5 separate regions of the Homo sapiens genome follow, and all the other regions are reported to be linked to region 1. The links are microRNA targets in miRTarBase. Many come from high-throughput screens and were not tested one by one. Region 1 holds a microRNA gene; each other region holds the end of a gene's coding sequence. Distances are from middle to middle.

Region 1 (5,106 bases):
TGGAGTTTGGGGCTGTGGATATGTCTAGATCTGTTGGGCGATGGCCAGATCACCCAGGCCTTGCCAGCCAAGTGAAGAAGCCTCAGACCCTCTTCCAAAGGCAATAGGCAGCCACTGAAAGCTCTGAAGGGGTAGAGGGACACTAGAGGAATCAGTGTGGTGGCAGGGCAGAGGGGCCTAGATCTGTGCATGACAGAGAGGCAGGAGGGAGCCCCTTGAAACATTCCAGTTGGAGGAGAGGAGGCCCTGAGCCTCCACTTTCCTGCTCCACCAGCAAAGGGGCCTCATTCCTTCTGGGGCTGGAGGGGCAGCCCTGGCCTCCAAAGGAGGCCAGAGCATCACTCGCCACAGGGATGGAGGGGCAGTGAGGCTGAAAAGCAGAGAAGCAGTGCCTGGAATGTCCCTTTAACCCGGCTGTGGCCGCGGGCCCAGCTGTGATGACTCGCCTGGCCGCCGTGTCTGGCAGGGCTTCAGGACAGAGCTGCCGCCGTGGTGCTGAGGAGCCGAGCGGGCGGGGAGCCTCTAGCTGCTCCAGCATCCCACTTGCTCACTGCCCCCTGATCCCGTGGACAGCGCAGTCAGAGGCAGGAGCAGGAGAGGAGGAAGCAGAGGAAAAGGAGGAGGAGGAGGCGGCTTGCAACTCCTCAGATCCAGAGCCGGACTCCGAGCTAATGAGGGAGCAGCAGACACGGCCTCCCAACCCTTCCCCCAAGGGGAACCCAGGTGGGTGCAGCCCCTGCCCCTGGCGGCTGTGGTTCTCTCCCTGGCTGCCATTTCCGTCAGGGGAGGTAGACCTGGATCGGCTTCTCCCTTGCTTCCCTCTCATCCTCACCCCCACACTCTGCCCACCGTGATGCATGGGTGGTATGTAGCTGGCTCATTCTATAAACAGGGCTAGCGAGTCTGTGTGGTTCTAGGGAGGCTGGGGCGGGGTGCACTTGGCCCCTGGTGTGGTACTCAGGGCTTTCTTCAGTCCTGGTTGTATTCACGTGCCTTTTGTGACGGGTGGCAGGACCCTCTGCTTTGAGAGGCTGTACTTTGTCTTGATTCACATACAACATACTGTATTAGATCCCAGAGCCGTGGTGTCACAGAGAACAACCCCTTTGGCCCTGGGGACAGATCTTCCCTGCTCCAGGGTGGGAGAGGGGACCAAGAAACAGCCAGGTGCCCATCTGAACGGCATTACCTTAGTGCTCCTAGTCAGCAGATGAGTGAAAGTGCCTTAAATGGTGCCGCCCGGCACAGCCACCAGCAGCCACGCATGGCAGCCCACAGATGGATTTAATTTACTCATCAAATTAATAACACAGTTCCTCAGTCCCGTTAGCTACACCTCCAGTGGCCAGGGGCCACACATGGCCAAAGGCTGCTGTGTTGGACAGCGCACATAAAGAACATTTCCATTGACACACGAAGTTCTGTGGAGCAGTGCTGACCTCGAGGCCTTTTCATTTTGACCTCATACTGCAGGCACCTGAGCCCCTCCTGGGGCGAATCACGTCAGATCACAGGGGGCTCTTCGATCTTGCAGTCTGGCTGTGCTGTAATGCAGTCTGCACCCTGCTGCATTACAGCACAGCCATTCTCTCTACAGACAAGGGGAATGGCGGGGCCCAAAGAGGGCTAGTGCCCCTTCCCTACCCCAGCCTGCCTGATCTCTCTCCATCTCTGTCTCTTTCAGGTTCTTTGCATCCATGTGTGTCTGTTTTCCTCTCTCTCATGCCTTTTCTCCATCTCTCTCCCCTCCTTCCCCTTCTGTCCCCTCCTGCCTCTCCTCTTTCTCTCTCTTTAGTCCTTGCTGTGGCTCACTCTGGGCTTCTCTTGCAGGTCCTTCCTCCAGGCCTCTCACCACCTCTGAGCCTGTCCCCCAGTCCTCTCTGTGTGTCTCTCCCCTCTTCTCTTCCTCCTCCTCCGCTCTCTCTGTCTTCTAAGGAGCTCTTTGTAAAACTCTTACTTTGTTAGAATTTGAATCAATGCCTCTTGCAGACCTCGGGGAGCTGACCTGATCCTTCAAGGAAGGCAGAGAGGACATTCAGGCCCATGCCCCTCATCCCCAGCTCAGAGACAGAGCAATCTACCAGCAGGTTGAGTTGGCAGACAGAGGCGCCCAGCCTTCCAGCGTGGGTCCAGTTGGTGTGTTTTGGATGCTTTGTGTTTTCAGCGTGAGCTCCCTCACTGCCATGTTATTAGAATCCCTCGTTGCAGAAAGGGCCTGTTTATCCCATTTCCTCCATTGATGCCCTTTCTGCTAGCATTTCATTGTGGGGAGGCCAAGCATGTAAGTACATAGACAGTGTCATGAAAACGTCCTGAAGGTGCTGTCACTGGCCCCTGGGATGGGGTAGCAGGCATTAAAGAGCAGCGCGGCGCAGATCATCTTCTGGGGGATTCTGCCTAAAAATTGAGTGGCTGCCCATCAGCAAAAATTAGACAGAGCCGCTGCTCCACAAACAAGGCTTCAGGCAAGATAAGAGCAGGGAGACCCTCCTCCCAAGAGTGTCTGCTTCTTTCGGGGATGGGTTCCGGGACTCGGCTCTTCTCACCAATGTTCTGGAAAGTCCTGCAGGAGGCGGGGCAACTGTTTACCCCAAACATTGGCAGCAGGGCAGGGACGGGGTGGGTTCCTTTCTTACTGGAAGGTAGCAAGCAGGACTTTTCCGGTCTGGAAAGCACCAGAAAGGTCTCACTCTCTAGCTTCCAGTAAGAAAGGAAGCTCCTTTTCCCTAAGAAACTGGGCCGGGGAAGGGGAGCTTGGAAAAGGTCGCTCACAGCGCACCCTGGGCTGTTTTTCTCACCTCTCAAGACAATGCAACAATGAGAAAGAACTTGGCAAGTTTGGGAGAGGAAATTGGGCAGCGTTTGCCTGGAACCAGGCCCTTTCAGCATTCCAAAGATTTAACACCAGAAGTCGGAAGCCTGGAACCAGCTGCCCGCAGGCTTCCGGGGGACTTGGGGTCTGGCTGGGGACCTCTCCCATGTCTGAATGGATTCTCCTCTGAGTGACCCTCAGGGTTGGGCTGGGGGACCTTTCCCAGGTCTGAATGGATTCTCCTCAGAGTGACCCTCGGGGTTCCAGCCATGCCTTATGTTCCCACTGGGCTGAGTTCTCTTGGCTCAGCCACCAGCAGGACAGTATGGGGACTCTGCACAGAAGCGTGACCCTTCCCCCAGCTGGAACGCAGCCTGGTCAGCTTTCCCTTTGCTTGGAAGCCCCTTAGAGATGCCTGTGCTGGGACTCAAGACATTGCCTAGCAGCGTATGTCCTCCTTCAAAAGTAGACAAGCCAAAGGAACGAGCAGTTTACAGTCCGGCCTTGTCCCAACCTTTTTGGCTCCATCAGCCTCCACCTGCTCTCCTAGAGGCAAGTTCTGGCGCTTCCCTTAGTTTCAAGGTGAGGTCTCCTGCGTGCCACATCCTTCCTCCTCCTGCTTCATCAGTAGGGCAGCTACCATGGAGAAATAATGCTCACGGATGTCCCAACCCAAGTCCTGGGAATCCAGAGGAGCTCAGATGCATTGCTTCATGTTCCAGGGCTGGATTGCAGGGAGGGAAGACTGTGGGGTCAGACAGACCTGAGTTCCTGCCCAACTTCCCTGGGCACTAGCTCTGGATCCTTAGACTCTAACTAGCCATGGAACCCTAGGTTTTACCACATTCTAGCTGTGGAACCCTAAACAGCAGGAAGAACCTCTCTGGGGCTCATTTAATTTATCTGTGAAACGCACTCTAATACTTGTCTCCTTGCATATTGTGAGGCTCGTAGATATTACATGTAAAATACTTAGCACTGTGCCTGGTACTTAGTAGGTGTTCAAGAAAACACTGCCATGATCATTTTTAGAGTCTTAGTCAAATACAGTTTGGGGAAGAGAGGGAATCAGAGCTGAAGAGTTCTTTTGAAGGTCTGTTGTGTGTGGACTTTCTTCGCTGAGCAGAATGGGTATATGAATGCCCCATTCATCCATCCATCTATCCGCCCACCCATCCATTTATCCATCAGACTGTCCATCTGTCTTATCTGTTTTTCCATCCATCCATGTCTCCATCTATCCAATTCATTCATTCATTCAACACTTCAACCAATCTTTCACTTAACAAACATTTCTCCGGGTTTCATGGACACAGTGGTGCCTAAGTCAGACGTGGTTCCTGACCTCCCAGAGCCCATAGCCTGCAGAAGAAGGACAACTAGACAGGCGATTCCAGGACAGTGTGATGCGTTAGGCGAGGCATTCTGGCCTGGTTTGGTTGGGGATGGGGAGGGGAAGGCACCATCAAGACAGTCATTCTGGAGAAGTGGCATTTCAGGAGGGACCTGAAGTGTAAGTAGGAGTCCAGCGGGCAGCGGAGAGAAGGGGGTGACAGCAGAATGTTCCTGGTGGGGGAGTACACGCTGCATGGAAGCCAGTCTGAGAGCAGGGCAGGCCAGGTGCTGCCACAGTCACCAGCGACCACGCATTCTAGGTGGCTGGAAGCGGCACGGCATTGTTTCTAACTTGTGCTGTGTGTCCACCATGGGCCAGTGGGGGAAGGGAGTGTGCCAAGCGGTGCACGGGTTCTCAGGGGCTCCCACGCGCGGGCCACGGGTCACTTCAGCATGACATCAGCTCGTTGCATTGGCCTGTGTGCTTGCCAGGAGCCCGGAGGGAAGAGACCTGGAAATGACACAAATGATGACCCCAGCAAGTCTGGGTGTGTGTGTGGTATATGCATTGGTTTCCCCAGTGGAAATGTGGCAGTGGAGGAAAGGTTGGGTTAGACCTGGGTCCTTAAGCCGTGGTCCATGGTAGATTCCAAAACTACCTGCACAGTCCTGCGTGTGGGACTGTGGTGTGTGTGTATGTATGTCTGTATGGTTTATGTGTGTGTGTGTGTGTATGGTATGTCTGCATGTGTGTGCGTACACATGTGTGTCTCTGTGAGTGTGTATGTGTCTATGTCTGTGGTGTGTGTGGTATGTGTGCATGTGTGTGCCTGATATGTGTGTTTATATGTGGTATGTATATGTGTATACGGTGTGTATGCACATGTATCTCTGTGTGTGCATGTGTGTGTGGTATGTGCATGTGTGTGTGTCCTGTGTCTATATGTGGTGTGCATAGT
Region 2 (5,096 bases), 60 Mb from region 1:
TGCCCACTGCGTCTCATTCCTGGTCAACTTTGGTGCCAACATCTTTGCCCTGGATAATGACTTACAGACTCCACTGGATGCTGCTGCCAGCAGGGAGCAGAATGAATGTGTTGCTCTCCTGGACAAGGCTGCCACTGCACAGAACATCATGAACCCCAAGAAGGTCACCAGGCTGAAGGAGCAGGCTCAGAAGAATGCCAGGAGGCAGATCAAAGAGTGTGAGAGGCTCCAGGAGAAGCACCAAAATAAGATGGCCCACACCTACAGCAAGGAGGAATCCGGGACTCTCTCTTCTTCCAAGGGTACCTTCTCCAGATCATCCCCTTCAAATGCTTCTGCTCCTGGCACATTCGGGTCACTATCTAAGGGCATTAAAGACACTTTCAAGATCAAGTTCAAGAAGAACAAAGATACAGCAGAACAGGTGGGGAAGGAAGGCAGAAGTGGGCAGAGGAACGTGATGGAAGTGTTCAGAGAGGAAGAGGAAGACTCGTTCTCAGGGGACTTCAAAGAGAAGCTCCAGTTGTCAGCAGAGGAGGACGGCAGTGTGCACCATGAATCCATTCTCAATCGTCCAGGTCTAGGAAGTATTGTTTTTAGAAGGAACAGGATATCGAGTCCTGAAGACATCTCAGATAGCAAGAGAGAGTTTGGTTTTAAACTGCCCAGTGAATTGCTTCAAAGACAAGGAGCATCAGAGGCTGATGAGGGTGCAGCTGATGAAGAGGGAGAGGAAAACGGCCTCAAAGATGATCTGCCGTGGGATGACGATGAAGTGGAGTGGGAGGAAGATGTGGTCGATGCCACGCCCCTGGAAGTGTTCTTGCTGTCTCAGCACCTGGAAGAATTCCTGCCTATCTTCAAGAGAGAGCAGATTGATCTAGAAGCTCTGCTGCTCTGCTCTGATGAGGACCTTCAGAGCATACAAATGCAGCTGGGTCCCAGGAAGAAAGTTCTGAATGCTATCAACAGGAGGAAGCAGGTGCTTCAACAGCCTGGGCAGCTGGTCGACACCAGCCTGTGATGGAGAGTTTTGGCCTGGAGCATTGGGGTGATGCTGTGGCCCGCTGGCAGCACTCCAGGCGGCACCCCCTCTTTACCCAATGCCAGACCACTGGGAATGGATTCTAGGGCATCGGAAATGCCTACCTGAGAGAGAGACCCAAACTTTACTCTGGGAGGTAGGCTATGCCCATCCAAATAAATCTCCATGAGAAACTTGAGGAGACTTCATAACAAGAATCTGGCATTTCTCTTCAGTTATCTTATATGTACATATAATTGTTTTTGTGGTTGTTTTGTTTTGTTTTGTTTTGTTTTTTGGAGATGAAGGTCTCAGTCTCTTACCCAGGCTAGGGTGCAGTGGTATGATCATAGTTCACTGTATTCTCAACCTCCTGGGCTCAAATGATCTCCTCCCACCTCAGCCTCCCAAGTAGCTGAGACTACAGGTTCACACCCCCCACACCTGGCTTATTTTGTATGTTTTAGTAGAGGTGGGGTCTTGCCACATTGCCCAGGCTGGTCTCAAACTCCTGGCCTCAAGCAATCCTCCCACCTCAGCCTCCTAAAGCACTGGGATTACAGGTGTGAACCACCGTACCCAGCCTATCTTTTTGATACTTTTGAATAAAGAAAGGGTCATATGCATGACAGGAAAATGAAAGAAACTTCCTTTACTTTTCTATCTCTGGATTTAAAATTATAATCTCATCACATTATCCTGCTGCTTGCTTTCCGATCTGTGTAACCTGGGAATTCCAATTCTTTTTCTCTCCTGAGATCTATGACTTTGCCTAGTGGTAGAGACTAGAGTTCTTTCCTGGCCTGCGGCTTGATGCCCAACTTAAATGCATCTAACCCTTTAACAAATGTGTACATGTTTACAAGTAATGGAAATGCGTCTATAATACTCCTGCCTGAGAATAGAGACAGAGTGGTGGTGGGGAGAGTGAAGAAAGAGATAGAATACAGGTGGTACCTGTTGTGGACTGAATTGCGTCAAATTCATATGTTGGAGCTCTAACCCCTAATGTGACTGTAATTGGAAATAAGACCTTTAAAGAAGTGATTAAGGTTAAATGAAGTCATAAGAATGCAACCCTAATCCTGTAGGACTGGTGTCCTTTTTTTCCCTTTTTTTTTTTTTTTTTGAGATGGAGCCTTGCTCTGTCACTCATGCTGGAGTGCAGTGGCGTGATCTCAGCTCACTGCAACCCCCGCCTCCCAGGTTCGAGCACTTTTCATGCCTCAGCCTCCTGAGTAGCTGGGATTACAGGCGTGCACCACAACGCCTGGCTAAGTTTTTGTATTTTTAGTAGAGGCGGGGTTTCACCATGTTGGCCAGGCTGGTCTCAAACTCCTGACCTCAGGTGATCCACCTGCCTCGGCCTCCCAGAGTGCTGGGATTACAGGCATGAGCCACTGCACCTGGCCTAGGACTGGTGTCCTAAGAAGAGGAAGAGACACTTAGGTGGAAGGCACACAGAGAGGCCACGTGAGGACACAGTGAGAAGGTGGCCGTCTGCAAGCCGAGGAGGGGGCCTCAGGAGAAACCAACCCTGCAATCACCTTGATCTTGGGCTTTCAGCCCCCAAAGGTGTGAGAAAATAAACTTCGGTTGATAAACTGCTGTTGTTGAAGCCATCCAGTCTGTGGCATTTTGTTATGGCAGTCCTAGCAGAATAATACTGTCCTAAGTAAGAGGGTTGGGGAGGAGACCAAGAAAAATACAGAAAAAAAGTCTGTCCAACTGCAATTGATGAGTTTTGTAAGGGTAAACACCTAGTGAAACTTAAGGGGAAAAAAAACTAAGTTCTTTGGAGGGAAGATTTGATTGTCAAAGGAAATTTCACATTTTCATGCTTATTATGTACACATGGTTTATTTACTGTTGTCTGTCACCATTGCCGCATATCTGAATATGTGTAGGTTCCACGATAGAAACTGACAACACTTGGCTCATGCCTGTAATCCCAGCACTTTGGGAGGCCCAGGCAGGCAGATCACCTGAGGTCAGGAGTTCAAGACCAGCCTGGCCAACATGGCGGAAACCCGTCTCTACTAAAAATACAAAAATTAGCCAGGTGTGGTGGCGTGTGCCTGTAATCCCAGCTACTTGGGAGGCTGAGGCAAGAGAATTGCTTGAACCCAAAAGGTGGAGGTTGCAGTGAGTTGAGATTGCACCACTGCACTCTAGCCCAGGCGGTAAGAGAGACTCCATCTCAAAAAAAAAAAAAAAAAAAAAGAAAAAAGAAACTGACAACACTGCTGCTGACATTTTTTCAATGGCAATCCCAAATTCAAACTGAAACCCCACTGAAGAGCTAAGCTTCATTAGATCTCTACAGGCTGACTTACATCAAGTGGAATTTACTGTTGATTCTGGGTATAATACAGAAACAGCTGTTTATCTTCAGCTTGCTTTCTGATGCACATCTGTTTGGGTTACTTCAAGAGGCATCATGGAGGATTCAAGTTTAGGGAGGATACAGATGCTCAAATCTGATGAACAATTGGCTTATTCTTCCTCAATGAATATATTCAGAAAGCTTGTTAGCCATTGAATAAACACGTTGCATTAGGGGATGATTGTTTACAAATACCTTATCTTGTGGAATAAACTGAAGTTGTGCTTTCCTTCATTAACGTGCACAGAAGCAGTTGGCAAATAGAAAGTGCTCAAAAAAGTTTGTAGTCTGTGCCTGCCACTATTATATTTCATCATCATAGATGCCAGAATCCCCTCTTCACCTATTGCCCGGAATCTGCCTAATGAGATATTTGCTCCACCCCCTGCTGTAACTACATCATAGCAAGAGAGCCATCACTCAGGTTGGTAGAAATGAACTTGAACATTGACTCTCATCCCTTTTTAGGAGATATTTGCCACTAGGGGTCTCATCAGGTACCTCTATGCTCTTCTTAGGGGTTCTTTTCTTTTATGATTGACAGAATTAATAGGTGAGCGTTCTCCAAAGTTCTCAGCATCAAGGATATAGTCTCTTCGTCACAGAGTATTGTTATATAATAAAAAAAGGTTTATACCATGTTATAAGATGTTATCAATGTTCTAAGAATTCCAGATCTTTCGAACTAAATACCAACTACAGGGGCTAAGAGAAGATGCCAGAGCAATACAAAGGCCTTGATAAGAGACAAAGACAAGAGGATTATGAGCCAGGATGAGCTTCAAGTACTCACTGATCTCAGACCTCCATCTCTTAAACTAGATGCTTAGAGTAGCTCAATCCAATATCTGGTCACCCCTACCACCTCCTGGCCCCTCTTTTCCCCCTCTATGTAGCTTGACATAAAAGTCAACAAGAGGGAAAAGCAGCTGGGAGCATTTCACCGAAGAGGAGAGTTTGAGAAGTTATAGTGTGGTAAATGTGTATTGTGCTTATATTTCAGGCCATTGTGTAGTACAGGTCAGTTATATGCTCAGAATTCCTAAGTCCAAGTTACCAGCCCAGACCATTGCTTTGGGCACCAAATACTTAAGCCCAAATCTAATCTGACATCTCCTCTCACATGTCTCACAAGTACCCCATACTCAGTGTGTCCAGGACTGAACCCATTTTCTTCCAGGTTGTCAGTTCTCAACTTGGATGATTTTGCCCTCTGTCTCCTAGAGGACATGTGGCAATATCTAGAGACATTTTTTGATTGCCATGATAGGGGAACAGTGGTGCAACTGACATCCAGTGGGTAGAAACAATGGGTGCTAAACATCCTAGAATGTACAGGACAGCCCACCACCACAATGAATTATCGAGACCCAAATAGTGATCGTGCTCAGTTTCAGCTGCATTAAAACATGCAGCTCTAAATCTTCATTTTTCATAAATGGAAAATTTAACCCAATACTTCTTTTCATCACCCAATTGGTCACCAGGCCCTTTCAACTTTTCAATATGTCTCAGAGCTAAATCCTCTTTGATGTTTGCAAGATGACCTATTGGTTCCTGCCCCCAACCATCACTCACTGGATTGCTGTAAGTATCCTTATCTGTCTTTAATTCATTCTCCACAAGGCTGGTTGAGTCACGTAATCTTTTTAATATGTAAGTCTCTTGTCACTTTCTACTTTACTG
Region 3 (5,106 bases), not on the chromosome of region 1:
ACCATTCTTAAATTTTCTTCTATTCTTTCATTGGGCTCAAATCATTTTTATGAAGAAATGAACTACAGTGAGTAAAAATCATATTGCTTAGTACTTTTAGAAATAACACTGAAGTATGTATTGGAGCATTTTGACCTAAGTGATAAGAGGTAGAACATGAATTATGTGTGGTGTACATATCCCTTTTTTAGATTGACGAGAAACTAAAATTGATTCTTAGCAGCATTAGCCTCCCTAGCTTTTCGAGACGAAAATAACCCATCTATAATCAGTATGAATTTGAGGTGTTAGAAGAGCAACTTTAGAAAACCCACTGCTCACAACATATGCTTGATGTAGATTTGAAGGGGATCATTAGAAAAATAGCATTCTTTGTGTTTACAAAACAAATGTTTTTGTTATCCAGTTCCCGCCTTAGCTTAAAGTATTTCCTATTCACAATAATTAGAGCAGAAGGATATGAAGAATGAAGTGCCTCATTACCAAGTTTGCTTCCTGGGCCTCGGCAGAGAGTAGCTGTCTGCTTTTGCCTAGTTAGTCCATTGTTAACCCTAAATGATGCTGACATTCAATTCTCCTGCATATAATTGTGTCCATCCATAGAATGAGTTCTCCAGTCAACACAGCCTTTTGATTGACATGCTTCTTGATGTTTTTATTCTCTCATATATGACTGGAATGGCGCCTTTTCGGTTTCTTGAATAAAATGTTACTGTACATGTAATTAGTTTGATTCTACAGAATCTGTTTCTTAAGGAAACATAATTATAGTATGGAGTAAAGATTTACTAAAATAATTATGATAAACAAATGATCAGTTTTTTTTAAAAAAAGTTCACTCAGATATATTTTATTTTATTTAGGTCACTGTTGAATGACAAACATTTGAGATGTTTCTAGTCCCTGAGTGTGGTCATAGGCACATGCCAACTGCTTCCTTACTCTTGTGTGTGTTGTCATGTCCAAATATCAGCATTTTCCTCTCCACAGCAACTGAGATCCAGTACTTTACAGATCACCCAGTGGAGTCTGATATCTCCATTTGCAACTAGCAGTGGCTGGAGTTGTGCAGTTGGAGAAGTTACTTAACCTTCAGAACTTGGTTTCCTTAGTTCTAGAGCAGGGAAGATTTTATCTATCTCATAGATTTGATGTGAAGAGTAAATGAAGTCATGTACATAATAAAGTGAGGATTTGGGGACTATTTTCGGTACAGTTCAATTAAATAGAAACGAACAAATATATAGCTTAAAACATTTGGATTGCTTAAAAGTGTTTCCATAATTCACTAAACAGATATGGCCATCAGATGGAAATCATTTGAATACACATAGAAGTGTAAGGTCACAAACTTTTGTTATAGTTTCTAGAACTTCCTAACTCTTAAAAATATTTGTGGCTAAATATATGACTAAAGTGACAACATGTCACATGAAGCTATAAAATGGTAAGTTATTTCTCAAATATAGTCTTGCTGAGCTTCCTAAAGACATCTTTCTTTAATTAAATTCTTCTATAATTTAAAGATAATATTAAGGTCAAGTATTCATTTGTATGTGATAGAAACCCTGCACAAGATTTCAGAAGTACCAAGCGTTAGCCATTTAAAAGCACTGATTTCATTTAAAATATGCATTTTAAACATAAATTTGCATTCACTGTGTAAAATATTTCATGTTTTAAATCTTTTAAAAACTTGATTTTTATTCTAGCTTTCCAAGTCCTATACATAGTATCATTTCAATACTGAAGAAACATTAATCTTCAAGACAGAGTTGGATGAATAACTGGGCAGTGCATTTCCAACAATGGTTTAAAAATATTATTTAGATATAGAAGAAGACAGTGTCAAATTGTTACTTGTTTGGAGAAAAGAGATGACATGGGATAAAATTCAGTACTTTCAGAATAAAGATAAAACAAACCCAATTTGTTATAAGGAAATGTTTAATGCCGTACATCATCAAATGGATTCTGGTGTCTGATTTTCTGCTTGATTATCAGCTGGATCTATTGCTTGGAGGGCACTGTCATGATCTCCCCCACCCCATCTCATCTCAGATTGTGTGGTAAAGAAACATCTTTTATTAATCTATTCATGAACATAACCCTAGTCTTACTTTGTCAGCGAGACAAAGGGGAAAAGGACTGGGCTTTCAGTAGAGCCAAATTTTCCTGGTGTTTGCTTCAACTGCTATTTTTCTCTTTAGTAGTTGCAATATAAAAACAACCCTTTATTTTTCATATAAACATCAAGAGCTTAGCAAATGCTTAGCTCCCCCTGACATATTTTTCATTCATCTTAAATTATTTCTAAACTTGTTGAAATTCTTGGTGATTCAATCAGAAAATCAACACATATCTCAAAATTATTAGCTGAAACTGCAGAGAAACAGATATTTTTATTTTTAAATTATCAAGTGCATTCACAAGACAGAAAAAAACAAGCTTGTACAAGAGTGACTCAAGCTGGCTGGGCCCAGCTGTACCTGACACACAGACTTATACATCCAGAACAATGAAAACTCAGTGCCATCAGAACAGACTTTTGGGCGGATGGCTGTAGGCTTCACCAGTTATCAGTGCCACTCAACACTTTCAAAAATGCCTTTTTTTTAAAGTTCTACACAGCGGGACATGTTTACCAATTTTTATGCCTCTACATGTGCAGGGATAAGAGCCAAATATATTTTTATTAGAAGATATTTCACACTGGGTATACATCTGGGCAAAATTTACACCTCAATGCCCAACATTGTTTTTCTCACTTCTTATTTTAATGGAATTGACTGTCTAATTTGGATAGGTCTTTCTAATTTTATATTAGTTTTCACTTTCTTGGGGTTAAATATTTTATCAGCAGACCTTATCACACACTTGAGAAAGGAGTCAAGAAAAGAACAAAAAATGAATATCCCATTATAATATCAAACTTCAAAACATATAGTCTATAATAATGACACTATTATTCTGGAACTTAGAAAAAATAAATAATGCAATATAATAATGTAAAAATATTAAGATTAAAATAAATATTAAACAATGTAAGTCTACAAAATAGGTATGTGCTTAAATATGAAAAGCCTTTTTTAAAAAGTAAAGACATTGGGAACATTGTTGCCAGTCCAGCCAAAAATCACTTTTAATTTAGGTCTATGAAGTTACCTATATGATTTGATCTTAAGAAACACAAAATTTTAATTAGAAAGTAAATTGTTTTCTTTTAATGTCTTTGTTACTGAGACTGTTTTGAATGCGCCATATTCTAAAGCTGCTTATCTTTTTTGTTTTTTGGAGATAGAGTCTTGCTCTGTCCCCCAGGCTGGAGTGCAATGGCGTGATCTTGGCTCACTGCAACCTCTGCCTCCTGGGTCAAGCAATTCTCCTGCCTCAGTAGATGGGATTACAGGTGCCTGCCATGAGACCCGGCTGATTTTTGTATTTTTAGTAGAGATGGGGTTTCACCATGTTGGTCAGGCTGGTGTTGTTGAACTCCTGACCTTAGGTGATCCACCTGCCTCAGCCTCCCAAGGTGCTAGGATTACAGGCATGAGGCACCGTGCCCAGTCAGCTGCTTATCTTTTAAATAAAGTGAATTTCAAAAACAGATACTTCATATTCTGGGCATAGCATCACACATACAACCATTACCAATATAATAATATTAAATGATTACTTAACAGACATCCTAATAACGCAAACACCTTTTATTCACATTTGCTGAGTAGCAATTACAGTGTTTTCTTCATTAGTTTTCCAACACTGGTAATGTAATTATGATGCAATTACTAACAATATAAGTACCAATACTTTGACCAACAATAGTCACAATGGTTTATAACAACTGAACTCAAAGGCCACGTTGATTTTTCCACCCACAACTTGATTCTGATTTTTCTAGAGTCATTCATAAGAACAAGAAGTAGTGGATCCTTTCTTCCTCCTTAGTATCTGAAAATTCTGAACTCTGAAGAGAAATTCCATTTGGTTTGTCATTTTCACCTCTGTGCATTTCGGCAGCTCTTAACTTTTCTTCAATTCTTTACTGGAAAGAAAAATACACAAAATGTACTAAATAAACTTGAATAATGTCTTCTGACTACAACCAAATCTTAGTGTGCTCAGGCAACAGCACAGGTAATAAAGGACATTGTGTAAAACACAAACACATACAAACACAACTAAAAAAGACCAAAATACTAATTTCCTATCTTCTAGTTTGCCTCTCAAACATTGTTAGCATCTTTTTGTATCATTAGCAATTGTTTAAGGCCTGCTCCTGCATTGACAGGTTAATGTAAGCAAGAAAGAAATAAAATCCCCAAATATAGACACTAAAAACTCCAAACCATAAGTAACTTCCAGAAATGAAGAGCAGGCAATCAGAGTATATGAAATTCTTCATTGAATGGGAAAAAAAGTCCTCATGGATGATATTCAGGGTTAGTGATTCGGAAGGATACAGATAATTTTATTAAATAGCATTCTTTCATTTAGTCTATGGCTATGCCTACTTTTATATAATTAGGTTATTACATTTTTCAAATCAATTAAAAAATGGGCTGTCTCATTTTTGACCAAGATAGTAACAATCAAGCATCCAGATGTGGCTTTGATGTAAAACAAATTATACAATTCATAAAAATCAAGAACCAATATGCAGATGAAACAAGAAGTTGCTTCCTTAGACAGCATGTAGTATTTGCACTACAACTAGTGTGAGATAAATTAGTGGGGCTAAACCTAACATTTTTTAATGCAATCATTCATACAGCATTGATAAGTTCTGGACTTACACAGAAAGGTTACTGTCCTTCTTCTAAAGAGAAAGGCTTAACACCTGGTTGTCCTTAGAAAACACACGGCAGTTTCAGAACGATGGCAAATCTGGTTAAGGTAGCAGTCAACTCCATCGACCACTCCTGAGAAAAGTGACAGCTGGCACACTGTGGCAAGAAAGGGCAATGGCTAACCATTCCTGAAGGGCTTTCCCTGGGGGCACAGGAGGTGTAGGGGACACCTGTGCTTTAAGGAACAGGCCCAATCTTAAATCAATGGTCGCACTATCTTTTCATATAAAACACATTTACACATGAGGGGCAAAAA
Region 4 (5,106 bases), not on the chromosome of region 1:
GGAGACTGGGGGACTGGAAGCTCTTACCAAGACCATAACCCACACAAGAATCTTATGGCTGGAGATCTGCCTAGAGGAGACAGAAATGGGATCATCTCTGGAACATAAAAACCCTATTTGAATTAGCTGGGTGTGGAGATGCACACCTGTAGTCCCAGCTACTCAGGGGGCTGAGGGAGGAGAATCACTTGAACCTAGGAGGTGGAGGCTGCAGTGAGCTGAGATCGTGCCACTGCACTCCAGCCTGGGTAACAGAGCAAGACTCTGTCTCAAAAAACAAAAACAAAAACAAAAAAGCAACCCTATCTAGTAGGATATATATACTAGAGTGGGCTGCACAGATTGACTCATGCTATTTCATCCTCAGTACCAGTGAGTAGCACATGTTTGAAAAATAGCTGCTAGAGTAAGGACTCATTCTATAGCCAGCATAGCAATTTGGTCCATAAACAAGAGCTCAGGGGGTCATTGTAAGGAGACTTCCTAGTGAAGAGCTCATGGAGTAAGGTTGGGTTGCTATCTGCCTTGAGAGTGACTTTTCAGACAGTGTCATTGTGGAAGGGACTTGAGAGGCAGTCTAACCAGCTACCCATCCTGTAGTAGCCTTCCCTTATCCATGTTTCCAGCTCCTTATGTTGCTCTTCTACTGCTGGGAAGCTCACTAGTAACTGCTTCTGTCTCTTTCTGGTTTCAGGGCTGGACTCCTTGCCACCAAACCAGGAGGCCATGTTGTCTATTCTACCTGCTCACTCTCACACTTACAGAACGAGTATGTGGTGCAAGGTGCCATTGAGCTCCTGGCCAATCAATACAGCATCCAGGTACAGGTGGAAGATCTGACTCACTTCCGAAGGGTTTTCATGGACACATTTTGTTTCTTCTCATCCTGTCAGGTTGGGGAGCTGGTAATACCAAACCTCATGGCCAATTTTGGCCCCATGTACTTCTGCAAAATGCGTAGGCTGACATAGTATCACCCAATCCCTGAAGCAAGAATACAAAGGGTATACTCTGTTGGATGCACCAGAAACTGGAAACTGGGACCAGTGGCAGAGATGCACTCTCGGTCCTGTCTCCATCCTGTTCGTGTCTTTCTGCAGTTTTCGGCAATAAGAAGTAGAAGATTTGCTGTCCTGCTGTCCAATTGTGGAGCATCAGCAGGTTTCCAACTCACTCATTAACCCCTACCCCATCTCCAGGCCTGTACTAAAGTTTGCTGCCCGCTTAGGGGCTTAGAAGGAGAAGCCAGTGAGCAGGCTCACACTAAGTTGTAAACATAGGAGAAGCATTTGGCCAATAAAGTTGTTGAAACTCTATAGACCTGGGGCTGCAGTTGGGGACTTCATGTCAGTGCAAATGCCATTAGTTCCATTTGTACCAGCCAGTTACTGAGCCCCTGTCACCCTTGAAGTGAGTTCCACCTGACCAGTCTTGAGCAGCCAACAGGCTCAATTAAGCCCGCCTGGTTTTTCCATATGGCTCATGATCTAATTTAAGGAACAAGTAACTAAAAATGTTAAGCCAGTGCAAAATAATCTGCTTACCTACTCACATTGGAAAAACCCTCTGAGCTGAATAATTCTGGCCATTCCTGCTGTCAACAATACTGCTGCCCAAATGTGGCTTAGGAGGCTGCTTCTGCCACAAAACCGTCATACTCTTGTGCGTGCCTTGTTCTTTGTTCATTCATCTAGCAGGTATTCCCAGACCTCGTGTATGACAGGTAGCTAGGGAGCTCTTGGAGATGTAGCAGTTGGGATTGTGGGAGATTACTGGGCTTCCTCATCCTTTAGAATGGTAACTCTCCTTTTGCTTTCTGAACACCTAGGAATTTCCTGATGTTTTGTTTTGTTGGATTCCAGACTTTTTGTTGTTTCTAGTCTGCAGCTGAGCTCTGGTGCCTGTTCTTTGGCCCACCCCCTAATCCCTAACTCTTCCCTCAGCATCACAGGGCTTCACTGCACACACTGTGTTCAGGGCAAGATTTCATCATTTACTGACTGCATACTCGATATGTTGTTTTTGTAACTTTAGCCAAAAGAAAGTAACCTTTAGTGGCAGGGATATAAAAAATTGCTCAGGGTCACTTGCAGATATTTTATTTTTAAACTTTTTTTTTTTTTCCTGGAAAACATCCTGTGCAGAAAAGGGTATATAATTTTAGAATACCTGAAGGCTTCTTGGCTTTTCCACTTTCCTTATTCCTCCTCTTCCTGCCACTCTTTTTGTCCCTTCTGTCTTTCCTGCTCATCCTTATTTGGGTATTAGAGGTGTCAGTTGAGGAGGGACTTTAGCTGAGGTTAAGCCTTCTTTTGGGATTTGCATTGTAATTGAGGGCCCTGGAAGATCTCTGAGACTCAAAATCAGGTGAAGCTAGGAAGATGGAGCTTTAAGGAGCATGGCTAGTGCTCTGAGTAGGACCGTAACCGCCTCCGTGCGTGGCATATGGTCCCTGCATGCTGTTCACTCTGTATAGTACTTAGTATTCGCTGAGGCTAAGAGGCCTCAGGTGCCTGGGCTTCTGCCCTTGGACTCCTGGATATCCAGCCTAGTGCTAATTGAATGCTAAGCAGTGGTAATTCAAAATGAGAGGGTCCCCTGCCTCTAGAGTCATCATCTAATTGGGGACAGGCAGACCTAGATAAGAAAAGCAGAGAACTACTTTGGAAAACAGTTTATCTGCTGTAATTGAACATTCAGCTACCCTATAACCCAGTTAATCCAATACTGGGGATAAATCCTAGAGAAACTCATACATGTACACCAGGAGATGTGTACAAGAATATTCATAGCAACCCTATTCACAAAAGCAAAAGCCTAGAAATAACCCAGATGCCCATGAGCAAGAGAGTGGACAAGTAAACTGGAATATTCACATAATAGAACATTATACAATTGTCAAATGAACTATAATGATACCTAACCATATGGATGAATCTGAGCAATAAAATAATTAAGTGAAAAAAGTTTAATCCCAGAAGAGTAAATGTAGCATGATGCCCTTTCTAAATGAAAGGTTTTTTCTTTTCTATGGAGTTATTCTTTACATACAATATAGTTCATAAATTTTAAATATATTGTTTAATAAATTTTGATAATTGTATATAATAGTATAGTCACCATCAAGATGTAGAAAATAGAAAATAGGCTAGGCACAGTGGCTCACGCCTGTAATCTCAACACTTTGGGAGGCCAAGGTGGGAAGATCACTTGATCCCAGGAATTCTAGATCAGCTTGGACAATGTAGTGAGACCTGGTCTTTACCAAAAAAAAAAAAAAAAAAATTAGCTGGGTGCGCTGGCATGTGCCTGTGGTCCCAGCTACTCAGGAGGCTGAGGCAGGAGGATCACTTGAGCACAGGAGTTTGAGGCTGCAGTGAGCAGCCTGGGCAAGAGAGTGAGACTCCGTTTTGTGCCACTGCACTCCAGCCAGGGTGACAGAGTGAGACTCTGTCTCAAAAAAAAAAAAAAAAAAAAAGGCATTGGGATTTATAATGTGCTGTTTAAAGTCTGAAGCTCGGCCAGGTGCGGTGGCTCACGCCTGTAATCCCAAAACTTTGGAAGGCTGAGGCAGGTGGATCACCTGAGGTCAGGAGGAGTTCAAGACCAGCCTGGCCAACGTGGTGAAACCCCATCTCTATAAAAGTACAAAAGGGCATGATGGCAGGTGCCTGTAATCTCAGCTACTCAGTAGGCTGGAGCGGGAGAACTGCTTGAACCTGGGAGGTGGAGGTTTCAGTGAGCCAAGATAGCGCCATTGCACTCCAGCGTGGGCGACAGCAAGAGACTTCATTTCGATAAATAAGTAAATAAATAAATAAAGTCTGAAGCTCCACTGGTCACTCCTTTTATTGATTATTTGCAGCTGGTCTAACCAGTTACGTATGTCTGGCTTGATTACATGGCCAGAGCAACATAAAAGCCCTGCTGGGAACTTCTGATTTGAGCTCTTCCAAAACCAGGATGGATGCCTCACATAGATCATGATGATTCAATCCAAAGGCACTTTGCAGTGCAGTCCACATGTGCATAAGGACCATGGGGAGCTTGTATTTGGGAATTCTGAGATTCCTGATGTTTACCTACCTAGTCTTTCTCTTGCTGCCCTGTATCCTTTGCCTTTAAATAAAAATCTTAAGTGATTATGCTCTGTGAAGCCTGGATAATCCTTTCAAATATTTGGTCTTGGAAAATTTTTGCATATATACATGGAATCATACAATATGTAGTCTTTGGTGTTTGACTTCTTTGACTTAGTGTAATGTTTTTGAGATTCAGTTTGTTGTGAGTATTAATGTTTTGTTCCTTTTTATTGCTGAATTGTATTCCATGGTGCAGACATACCACCATGTTGTTTATCTGTTCACCAGTTGATGGACATTTGAGTTGCTTCCAGTTTGGGGCTATTATTAGTAATGCTGCCAATACCTTTTGGGCATATAATTTTGTGAGTACGTGTTTTCTTTTCTTTTTTTATTTTTTGAGATGGAGTCTCACTCTTTTGCCCAGGCTGGAGTGCAATGGTGCAATCTCAGCTCACTGCAACCCCCGCCTCCCAGGTTCAAGCGATTCTTCTGCTGCAGCTTCCTGAGTAGCTGGGATTACAGGCACCCACCACCATGCCTGGTTAATTTCTTTGTATTTTTAGTAGAAACGGGGTTTCGCCATGTTGGCCAGGCTGGTCTCGAACTCCTGACCTCAGATGATCCACCTACCTCGGCCTCCCAAAGTGCTAGGATTACAGGTGTGAACCACTGTGCCCAGCCCATGTTTTCTTCTGAGTAAATACTTAGGGGTAGAATTGCTAGGTCATATGGTAAATGTATGTTTAACTTTATAAGGTACCACCATACTGTTTTCCAAAGTGGATCTACCATTTTGCACGGCCATCAGCAATGTATGAGAGGTCCATTTGCTCCACATCTTAGTACTAACACTTAGGATTATCAACGTTAAACTTTATTGTAGTGGGCCGGGCAGTGTGGCTTATGTCTGTAATCCCAGTACTTTGGGAGGCCGAGGCGGGCGGATCACTTAAGGTCAGGAGTTCAAGACCAGCCTGGCTAACATGGGAAAACCCCGTCTGTACTAAAAATGCAAAAATTA
Region 5 (5,106 bases), not on the chromosome of region 1:
TTTTAAAGCAAGTACTTTAAAATGTGTAGCTGTTTTACTAATCTTGAAAGCTATACACTTAAAAAAATTTGTAGTACTTATATATATGAAACAAAATTGGTTTAGTCTACTTGTCTACTTAGGATTCCACAAACTCCTGGCCACAAATCATCCCTTCCTTATTTCTTACATCCAGGCTCTTAGACCCATAAGTTGAATACTCCTGGCATGTAGTATATATTCTCACATTTCAACCTTCAATATGCCTACAAGTGTTCTTATACTTATTTATCCCAATAAGGTGGCCCAGAACCACTCTCCCACTGAAAAAAAAGTGGCAAAGTGCCCTTGATAACATGATAACTTCTTTTGTGTTACTCATTTTGAAAATGATTGATTCTAATAATACCTATAATCTGTTACCTAAGATAGAGACTTGTGTATAATTACTAATAGCTTAGACTTCTTTAGCACGCTGCCTATGTCTTTGTTTCTCTACTTGTTTCTTTGAATTAGGAGACACCCTCAAACACCGATTTTGAGTTTTTATTGTTATTATTTTTGCCATTAATTTAATTTTGCTTAATAATGCAAATGGGAGATTATAGAAAAAATGATCAAATCAAATGACTATATGGCCTTATAGCTTACATTTAACTCCAAGGCAAAATAATCTAAACTAAACCTGGAATAGAATTGAATTATTAAGTCCTATGTAAATTGAAATTTTTTCTTTCTCTTTTAGATAAGGAGATAGCATGGCAAGCATTGCATCTAGTAAATGGATACAAACTACATGGGAAAATATTGGTGATAGAGTTTGGAAAGAACAAAAAGCAACGGTCAAATCTCCAAGCGACTTCTCTCATATCATGTGCTACAGGTAGCACTACAGAAATTAGTGGTAGCTAGAATATATATAAATTGTGGGTCCTGGATGGTCTTTCTTGAATTGGAATCTTGGATCTAGGATTTATGTATAGACACCAGTTTGTTTGGAGTTGAAGAGGAAAAACTAACTGAGGGAGGGGAAAAAAGTAATTTCAGCTTTTGGAGAGAACTGGTAGAAAACATTTTCTATTATATAATTGAAGACTATATAGGACAGATGATATGCTGAGTATGAAGGGTAAAGTGCAAAGAGTATTATTTTCTCAGGATGAATTACAACGGATTATTCCTAAGGATTTTTAAAAATCTTTATAATTTTTCTGGGGTCCTCAATATTTGTCTCTAGAGATAACATTCTTTCTTAGACTGCTTCGTATACACAGAAATAAAAAACTAATTAAATGTTGAAATATTTCTTTACTAGAGCCCATTTGCCATATTTCATCCACCTAGTAAATAAAAGAGTAGGACCCCCAGGCCTAAGCATCAACAAATGCTATTAAGTCAGAACTATCAGCAGTAATAGTAGGTAGTTTCATAAGTCAGTTGACTTATTTAATGAATGCTTCCTCCACAAGTTATCAGTCTTCAAAAAGCTATATATTTTTCTAGTGAAATATTTTAGATCAAAATGTTGGTGTTCTCACAGCCATTTAAGCTAGCAACCATTGAGTATCATTGAATTCATAGCAATAAACATTGATTAAGTGTCTAATATATGTTAAATATTAGGCATATGAATTTTAGAAGAGGAACATACAAGCAAAGAATGCCAAACGGAAATGGAAATAAAGCGTTCTCTAGAAAAGAGGATGCCAGTCACAAATCCCCCAGTTGTTTGTTTATGGTTGCTGGAAAATAAAAAAACAATATACAGAGAGGAAGTAGTACAAACTGGAGTCAGACCTGTACAGCCACACTTAACATTCTATGACCTTGGCAAGTCACTTAATCTGAGCCTCACATTTTTCATCTATAAAGTGAGGATAATAATGCTACTTACCTCACTGGGTTGTGAAGATGAACTGAGATATTATCCAGGCTGAAGAACAGAAAGGAAAACAATGAATAAAATTGAACAAGAGTATAGAACCTGTGTGACACCATTAAGCATTCCTACATATTTCTAATGGGAGTACAGGAAAAAAGGAAAAGAAATGAAGGAGCAGAAAAATATTCTAAGAAATAATGGCTATAAATACCCCCGATTTGATGAGAGACATTAACCTATACATCCCAGAAGAAAAAGAAATTACAGACAGATACATCATAAGAAAAATGCTAAAACCCAAAAACGAAAAGAAAATCTTAACAGCAATACGAGAAAAATGAGCCATCACTTACCAAGGAACCCAAATAAAATTAGTAGTTGACTTCCCCTCAGAAACAATGGCAGTGGCAGTGGAATAACACATTCAAAGTGTTCAAAGAAAATAACTGTCAACCAATAATCCTATATACAATAAAACTATTTTTCAAAAATGAACGTGAAATAAAACATCTCACATAATCAAAAACCAAGAGAATTTGTTGCTGGCAGACCTGACTTGCTGGAAATACAAAAGGAAGTTCTTCAGCCTGAAAGCAAGTGACCACAGACAGTAATCTGAATCTACACACATGCAGAAAAAGAGCACAGGCAAAAATAATTATGTAATTATCAGAAACAATCTATGCATTTTTCTTTTTTCTCTTAACTAATGTAAAACACAGTTGTATAAAACAATATGTATATAGTTGCATCGTTTGGCCTATAACGTATAAAATATAATATATTTGCCGATAACAGGTTGAAGAAGCTGAGTGGAAGCAAAACTGTCTTGTACTAAAGAACTGACTCCAGATGGTAAGACAAATCCACAGGAACAAATGGAGAGAACGTGAAATAGGAAATAAGTTTAATATAAAAAAACTATAAACATATACTTACTCTTCTCTCAGCTTCTTTTAAAGATGTAAAATTATATTAAGTAATTATAATAATGTGTGTTGGGTTTGTAATGTATAGGAATAACATATATAACAATAATACCACAAAGCGGGGGATGGGTTTATATAGGAATAGGGTTGTTACATTGGAATTAAGTTAGTGTTTATCTGAAGCCTATTCTGTTTAGTTAAGATGTGTATGGTAAGCCCTAGAGCAACCACTGAGGAAATAACTTTTAAAAAATCAAAAATATTATTAAATGTAAATATCACATTATGAAATAATGCAAAAGAAGGAATGGAGAAGCAAAAAGCTTGAGGCATATCAAAAACAATAAAATGGCAGTCATAAGTCTTCCTATATCAAAATAACAATGTGCATGGATTAAGCAATACTATAAAAGGCAGAGATGTCAGAAACAAGTCTGATTCCACTTCATGCCATCTATTTGAGACACACTTTAGAAGATAGAAAGAGATTAAAGGTAAAAGGATGGAAAACAAATATATCACACAGACAACAGCCATAAGAAAGCTGGAGTGGCTATTCTAATACCAGACAAAATAGACTTAAAAAAATGTTACTGGAGATAAAGAGTAAAATGTTACAATGATAAAAGGGTCAATACATCAGGAAGATGTAACAACTATAAATATATATGCATCTAACAGTAGAGCCCAAAATACATGAAGCAAAAACTGAAAGGAAAGGAGAAACAGATAAGTCCATAAAAAGAGTTGGAATATTCAATACCCCTTTTTCAATAATAGAGCACCTAGACAGAAGATAAACCAGGAAATAGAAGACTTGAACAACATTATAAGGCAAATTGACCTAAAAGACATCTATAGAACTTTCCACCCAACATCAGAATACATATTCTTCTCGAGTGCATATGAAACATCTCCAAAATAGGTCATAAGTTAAAGCATAAAACAAGCCTTAATAAATATAAGTAGACTGAAATCATGCAAAGCATGCCCTCTGACCACATGGGATGAAGTTAGAAAACAATGAAAAGTTGGGAAACTCACAAATATGTGGAAATCAGACACACTTGTAAGTGACTGGCTGGGTGCAGTAGCTCACGCCTGAAATCTCAGCACTTTGGTAGGCCGAAGTGGGAGGATTCCTTGGATCCCTTGAGACCAGGAATTCAAGACCAGCCTGGGCAACACAGCAAGACCCTGTCATTACCAAAAAAAAAAAAAAATGTGTCAAAGAAAAAAATCATAAGGGAAATTACAAAACCCTTTGAGATGAGTGATAATGAAGACACAACAAACCAAAACTTACAAGATGCAGCTAAAGCAGTGTTTACAGGGAAATCTATAGGTACAAATGCCTGTACTTAAGAAGAAAAAAGACCAGGCACAGTGGCTTACGCCTGTAATCCCAGCACTTTGGGAGGCCGGGGCGGGTGGAGATCATGGGGTCAGGAGATCGAGACCATTCTGGGTAACATGGTGAAACCCTGTCTCTACTAAAAATACAAAAAATTAGCCAGGCGTGGTCGTGGGCACCTGTAGTCCCAGCTACTCGGGAGGCTGAGGCAGGAGAATGGCGTGAACCTGGGAGGCAGAGCTTGCAGTGAGCCAAGATTGCACCACTGCACTCCAGCCTGGGCAGCAGAGCGAGACTCCATCTCAAAAAAAAAAAAAAAAAGAAAAGAAAGACCATAGCACTAACCTCACTTTACACCTTAAGACCCTGGAAAAAGAAGAGCAAACTAAACCTAGAGCCAGGAGAAAGAAGGAAATATAAAAGATTAGATGAGAATAAATGAAATAGAGTGAAGAAAAGTAGAGAAAAATCAATGCAACCAAAAGTTGATTCTATAAAAAGATCAGTAAAACTGACACACCTTCTGCTAGACTGACCAGGAAAAAAGGAGAATCAAATTACTAAAATCAGAAATGAAGGAGGGAACATTTCAACTGAACTTGTAGAAATAAAAAAGATTATGAAGGCATATTATGAATAATTTTATGTCAATAAATTATCAATGAAGTGGACAAATTCCTAGGAAGACACAAACTACCAAAACCAACTCAGAAGTAGAAAACTTGAATAAACCTATATCAAGTAAATAGGTTAAATGAGTTTTTGAAAAGATACCCACAAAGAAGAGCCCAGGCTGAAATAGCTTCTTAAATGAATTCTACAAAACTTTTAATGAAAAATTAATACAAATTCTTCACAAACTTTTTCAAAAAGTAGAAGAGTGGTGAACACTTCTGACACATACTACAACATGGAAGAACTCAGAATATGCTCAGTGCAAGAAGCCAGTCACAAAAGACTAC

What was found. The annotated mature microRNA hsa-miR-6504-3p reads CAUUACAGCACAGCCAUUCU and lies in region 1 at 1,570-1,589, shown strand. An mRNA with a match to its seed (bases 2 to 7 or 8) in the 3' UTR can be bound and repressed. Matches are read on the target gene's strand: a 7mer-m8 pairs with bases 2 to 8, a 7mer-A1 pairs with bases 2 to 7 and ends in A, and an 8mer does both.
Region 2: the mRNA of ANKS4B is a reported target of hsa-miR-6504-3p. Seed matches in the 3' UTR shown: 7mer-m8 at 2,039-2,045, 7mer-m8 at 2,968-2,974 and 7mer-m8 at 3,103-3,109.
Region 3: miRTarBase lists AHI1 as a target of hsa-miR-6504-3p. Seed matches in the 3' UTR shown: 7mer-m8 at 3,731-3,737, 7mer-m8 at 3,541-3,547 and 7mer-m8 at 3,403-3,409.
Region 4: the mRNA of NSUN4 is a reported target of hsa-miR-6504-3p. Seed matches in the 3' UTR shown: 7mer-m8 at 2,683-2,689, 7mer-m8 at 3,169-3,175, 7mer-m8 at 3,542-3,548 and 7mer-m8 at 3,672-3,678.
Region 5: the mRNA of RBM41 is a reported target of hsa-miR-6504-3p. Seed matches in the 3' UTR shown: 7mer-m8 at 4,188-4,194.

What each region holds. Positions count from the first base shown.
Region 1 is chr16:81,609,818-81,614,923 of GRCh38, forward strand. MIR6504 (microRNA 6504) reads left to right here and starts at 1,531; the gene lies at 1,531-1,591. The region is part of intron 2 of CMIP (c-Maf inducing protein); the gene reads left to right.
Region 2 is chr16:21,249,797-21,254,892 of GRCh38, forward strand. ANKS4B (ankyrin repeat and sterile alpha motif domain containing 4B) reads left to right here. Exons shown (of 2, transcript NM_145865.3): 2 at 1-4,054. The coding sequence ends at 1,024. Among named protein-coding and RNA genes, the nearest start is that of ANKS4B, 19 kb to the left of the region's middle.
Region 3 is chr6:135,281,603-135,286,708 of GRCh38, forward strand. It overlaps AHI1 (Abelson helper integration site 1), which reads right to left. Exons shown (of 29, transcript NM_001134831.2): 29 at 1,930-4,045. The coding sequence ends at 4,043. Among named protein-coding and RNA genes, the nearest start is that of MIR548A2, 45 kb to the left of the region's middle. RefSeq lists an enhancer at 1-1,312.
Region 4 is chr1:46,360,876-46,365,981 of GRCh38, forward strand. It overlaps NSUN4 (NOP2/Sun RNA methyltransferase 4), which reads left to right. Exons shown (of 6, transcript NM_199044.4): 6 at 695-4,143. The coding sequence ends at 971. Among named protein-coding and RNA genes, the nearest start is that of NSUN4, 23 kb to the left of the region's middle. RefSeq lists a silencer at 3,828-4,028.
Region 5 is chrX:107,063,312-107,068,417 of GRCh38, reverse strand. It overlaps RBM41 (RNA binding motif protein 41), which reads left to right. Exons shown (of 8, transcript NM_001324242.2): 8 at 725-5,106. The coding sequence ends at 891. Among named protein-coding and RNA genes, the nearest start is that of RBM41, 53 kb to the left of the region's middle.